Regions from separate parts of the Homo sapiens genome. Here region 2 is linked to region 1. Evidence: fine-mapped expression QTL. Tissue or cell type: whole blood. Region 1 holds a variant in brackets; the other region holds the start of a gene. All regions are shown on one strand. Distances are between the middles of the regions.

What was found. PIP is the estimated chance that this variant, and not a neighbour inherited with it, causes the effect.
Region 2: it holds the start of CFAP97, and the variant in region 1 is fine-mapped to the expression of CFAP97 in whole blood (TOPMed, PIP above 0.99).

Annotation. Positions count from the first base shown.
Region 1 is chr4:185,372,719-185,375,476 of GRCh38, reverse strand. It overlaps LRP2BP (LRP2 binding protein), which reads left to right. Exons shown (of 9, transcript NM_001377440.1): 5 at 1,016-1,158; 6 at 1,237-1,342; 7 at 2,398-2,621. It also overlaps a transcript of SNX25 not described here. Among named protein-coding and RNA genes, the nearest start is that of LRP2BP, 22 kb to the left of the region's middle. The variant C/T (reference allele first, on the strand shown) is at 1,530.
Region 2 is chr4:185,202,906-185,205,523 of GRCh38, reverse strand. It overlaps CFAP97 (cilia and flagella associated protein 97), which reads left to right and starts at 1,524. Exons shown (of 5, transcript NM_020827.3): 1 at 1,524-1,626. It also overlaps a transcript of SNX25 not described here. RefSeq lists enhancers at 372-461, 572-681 and silencers at 1,441-1,612, 1,222-1,991.

The DNA of each region.
Region 1 (2,758 bases):
TTTTTTTTTTTTTTTTTTTTTGAGACGGAGTCTCGCTCTGTCGCCCAGGCTGGAGTGCAATGGCGCGACCTCGGCTCACTGCAACCTCTGCTTCCCGGGTTCGAGTGATTCTTCTGCCTCAGCCTTCACAGTAGCTGGGATTACAGGCACTGCCACCACGCCTGGCTAATTTTTGTAGTTTTAGTAGAGACAGGATTTCACCATGTTGGCCAGGCTCTACTAAAAATACAAAAATTAGCCAGGCATGGTGGTGCATGCTTGTATTCCCAGCTACCTGGGAGGCTGCAGTGAGCCAAGATCATGCCACTGCACTCCAGCCTGGGTGACAGAGCAAGACTCTGTCTCAAACAAACAAAAACCAAAATATATTTGATTGTCCAATATTATTTTCTTCTTTTGGGTGATGTTTGAAGGTTTGTGTCTGATGGATTTGGGGGTGGAGGGTACAGATCTGTTCTTGCTAGTGGTTAGAATATCTTCTATGCTTTCCTTGTGACCACGTAGCAGATGTCGTATTAGTGCATAAGATTTGTATATTAGATACAAACTATGAGCACACAGTAAAAGTATGCTTGAATGGAAGACGGTGTTTGTTAGGGGCTCGCAAGTGTATCGTAAGAATTATAAATGTGAAAGCTGTTCCTGGCCATTCTTCCACTTTAGCCAGTTCTAAGAACTGTGCTGATTCAGGATAAGGGTTATTAGATGGGAGGGAGGAGAGAAAAAAGGAAGCCCATATCGAGACTTAAATCAACTCAGGCAGCTGTAAAAGGAAGGAAATTTCTTATATCCCAGAGCTCCTGGGAGTGCCTGAGTAGGAGATGTACTTTTAGAGATTCTTTTCCTCCTTATCGCTTGCCCTGCAGAATCCAGGACAATTGTACCCCTTGGGCACAGATTCATAGTATTATACATCGTGTCAGAGGGCGGACACTTCACAGCCTTATTGGGAGAAAGAAATTCAGTTTGGGTAAAACTAAAAACTAGGGTTTTTTTGCTCTTTCTTTTGTCGAAGGAGAAAGGGGTGGACTATATGAAGAAAATTCTTGATTCTCCATGTCCCAAAGCAAGACACTTAAAATTTGCAGCTGCTTACAACCTCGGAAGAGCTTATTATGAAGGAAAAGGTGTTAAACGATCAAATGAGGAAGCTGAAAGGTAATCCTACCTGAGAACAAGATTAGGTTTGAAGGAAATGCTGAAACCGAGAATAACATGCCTCACTTTCTCTTGTAGACTGTGGCTTATCGCAGCAGACAATGGAAATCCCAAAGCTAGTGTGAAGGCTCAAAGTATGCTCGGGCTGTATTACTCAACCAAGGAGCCCAAGGAGTTAGAAAAGGTAACGTTCCCTCTTTTTTAATGCTAGTGTTATATTTAGATTAATATTTGTTTCACTGCTTTTTTTGAGAAAATGGTGGGGAATGTCGTTTTAAATATCTCTTATAGTTCCTTTAAATGTAAAGAAAGCATACATTTTAGGATCTCAAAGCCCTTTTATTTATAAATGTCCCCTTCCCTACCTCTAC[C/T]GAAGGAAACCATGAATGTGAGAGTATTTTGTATACTATAGTATCAAAGCTAAAAGAAGAGAAACAGTCCTGAAATTACAGCCAAAATCCTTCTAAGCATGAACAGATGAATATTACCGTTGACTTGAGAAATTGATACTAATAAGTAAAATATACCAAGAATTAGTTACAAATAAAATCCATCTAAGATTTTCACAGAAATATAATCTCTTTCATCAATGGTTGAAACAGTTTCCAAAAAATCCTATAAGGAGAAGGAAATGGGGGCTGAGTCCTACTTGTGAGAGAGGAGTTAATGGCAAATTTGCAAGAGACACATAACAACTAAGGCCATCTTTGGATAGATAAGCAGCCATCTGGAATTTTTTAAATGAATTCAAATTCACTGTAGCAGAGTATGAGGCAAATGTGCTTGAGCCTACATACAGCGTTTATCCTGGGTTGTCTTTGATCGCAGCAGCTGCTATCTCTAGAATCCACCGGGAGCTCGAACTCTCCCTTAGCATCAGTGGTTTCCCCTCCTCTGCTGTGCCTCACGCCTTTCAGACACTGAGTTCCTATTTGGCATCTTCCTGATCCTTACTCTGAAGATCCCCAAATCCTGAAACCTAGGACAGCTGGTCTTCCTCTGCCATAAGCTGCCTGGACTGTGATCTCACCTGCACTGTGGACAGACAGCGGAGGAACTCGCCTCCACACTGTGTTAGGCATGTGTGCTAGTGTGAAATGCGTCCAAAGGCCTACCGCTCTTTCCTAGAGATGATTAATAGTGCTATCTAGGAAACACAGAGTTCTTTTCTGTCTAGTATTCCCTTATAATTTCATCTAGTGGATCACAAATACAATGATGAAACTGTGCTTTTCTTAGGCATTTTACTGGCATTCCGAAGCATGTGGCAATGGGAATCTGGAGTCCCAGGGTGCACTTGGGCTCATGTACTTGTATGGACAAGGCATCCGGCAGGATACGGAAGCTGCCCTGCAGTGCTTAAGAGAAGCAGCAGAACGCGGAAACGTCTATGCTCAAGGGAATCTCGTGGAGTATTACTATAAGATGAAATTTTTTACAAAGTGTGTTGCATTTTCCAAAAGGTGAATGTCTTTGTCTGTTCTGTGCTGCTGTAACAGAATATCACACACTAGGTAATTTATGAGAAACAGAAATTTATTTCTCACAGTTCCAGAGGCCAGGAGAGGGCTGCAACCTCCAGAGGGGAGGACCATCATGT
Region 2 (2,618 bases), 170 kb after region 1:
GGAAAGTGGTGCCAACACAGTTTTATTAAGCACTTTAAAAGAAAGTGAAATTCTTGCTTTTTTTTTTTTTGAGACACAGTCTTACTCTGTTGCCTAGGTTGGAGTGCAGTGGCACGATCTCGGCTCGCTGCAACCTCCACCTCCGGAGTTCAAGCGATTCTCCTGTCTCAGCCTTCCGAGTAGCTGGGACTACAGGCTCACGTCACCACGCCCAGCTAATTTTTGTATTTTTAGTAGAGACAGTGTTTCACCATATTAGTCAGGCTGGTCTTGAACTCCTCTCAGGGGGCCCCACCCGCCTCGGCCTCCCGAAGTGCTGGGATTACAGGGGTGAGCCACTGCGCCCAGCCAATGCTGTCTTTTAGGCAACAAAAAGAGAATTGATTATACTTTTGGTAATTAAGACCAACAAGTACAAAATGCATTGTGAAGGACGAAAATAGACAATCCTTACTGGAACTCCCCGGGACAGGCAGGGTAAGACCCATATTTCCTACCCTTCTTTGCACTTAGATGTGAACAATATTTATTAACTACTGGATTGTATACCATTGCTGCTATAACAAATTACTACAAATTCAGTAGTTAAAACAACACAGGTGTATTGTCTTACAGTGCTTAAGGTATTAAGTCTAAAATCAAAATTTGCAGGCTCTAGTTCCTTCCTGAGGTTTCAGGAGAGAATCCGTTTCCTCCTTTTGCAGCTTCTACCTGCACTCCTTGGCTCATTGCCTCTGACATCACTCCAACCTCTAGCTTCTGTGCTCACAGCTCCCACTACTGACTTTGAACTTCTTGTCTCCATCTTATAAGGACCTTTGTGATTCCATGGGGTTCACTGGATAATCCTGGTTAATCTTCCCATTTTGATCCTTAATCACATCAGCTAAATCCTGTCTGCCACATAAGGTGACATATTCACGTGTTGTGGGGACTAGGAGGTGCACATTTTTGGGGTGCCATCATCCTACCATACCTGAGAGTTCAACGAGAAGTTATTGTATTCAATATATTCTGCAGAGATCATTTTTACCTTAGATTGTTTTAACTACCCACCTCGTTTACCACTCGGCAAAGGTCTTTCCATTCTGAAACCAGCCTCTGGTCCACAGAACTAACTAGTGGTATGAACTGAAATTTGCTGATAGAAAATATCACAAACACACAGCCGCCGTTCTTTTTTATTCTTGGTTTGGTAGAGAATTACAAGATAATCAAGGCAGCTTTCCCTATTAACGCACGAGAACAACGGGGCCTACCCGCGCCGCCCTAGGCAGCCGGGAGCAGCAGTAACGCCTCTAGGGCGCCATGGCAACCACGCGGGCTGGACCGCCTTCTTCCGCGGCTCTTCTAGTGTGCGCGTCCCTGGCCCGGCCTCCACTCCGCCCGCGTGGAGCCCCGGCCTGGCCGCCTGCCCGCCGCGCTCTGTGACGCCCGCCGCGAGGGCCGCACGAGGCCCGGCGTGCGCCCCCGCCTCTCCCGAAGCGCCGGGCCCCACGCCGCCCCTCCTTTCCCTTTCCGCTCTCTCCGCCTCCGGAAGCGCGGGCGCGCGGCGCCGGGAGCCCGTTCAGGGCCGCGGGAGTGCGCCAGCGCCGCGCGTGGGGCTGTGGTGGCCGCGGCTCTCAGGTGAGGGGCGCGCGAGCGGCTCCTGGCTCCCTGCTCGCGGGGCGCCCGCCACGCTCCTTTCCGTTCGCATCCGTCTCCCCGCTCCGGAGCCCAGGCGGCGGCGAGTACTCGGGGTGGGTTTAACGAAGCCTGCGCGGACGGTGGGAGACCGCGCCCCCACGACAGGGGCGCCCGCGGCGGCGGGTCGCGGCGCCGTTCCACCCCGGTCCCCTGTGAGAATGGCGGGTCCCGCCCTCTCGCGCGTTCCGGGTGGCTTTGAGGGTCAGGATCAGCCCTAAATTGAGATTGGGCCGCGACCACATGCCGGGCCCTGACGACTTCTTCCTACTTGTAGGGACTCGAACCTAACCCACGAGGCCCGAGGGGTTATCTGCCTTCCGGGGACGGTAGGGGATGTAGACAAGAGCCTAGCGTTCCTGGAAACAGGTGTTTAATTTGGGCCGGGATTTTCATGTACCCAATTGGGCATCTTGTTGGAGGCCTACTGTGCTGTTTAACTACAGAAATGTATTGTCACAGTAACAAGATGACAGTTTAAAAAGTGCCCGGTGCTTTTCTGTGTATTTTCCTGATGTTTGGTGAAAGCATTAGTCTTGTTATTGCTGGTCTGTAGGACCTGGCAAGTGGGGCGTGCCCAGTGACTCTCAGGCAGCTTTGATAAAAACTTACCTGTCTCTTTTTTTTATTTTTATTTTTTGAGACAGGGTCTCGCTCTGTGGCCCAGGGTGGAGTGCAGTGGCACGATCATGTCTCACTGCAGCCTCCCAACTCCTGGGCTCAAGCGATCCTCCTGTCTTGGCCTCCCAAAGTCCGGGGATTACAGGCGTGAGCCATGCCCCTCCTGGCAAAACTCTGTCTTGATTGAGCACCAAAGGGTTGTTATGGTCTGATGAACTATCCTTTAATTTTATCCTTTCCTAGTCTGTTGTAAAGAGAATCTTAACTACTTTATTAAGTCATTTTTCTTATTCTCTGGTAAATTGAATCACTTA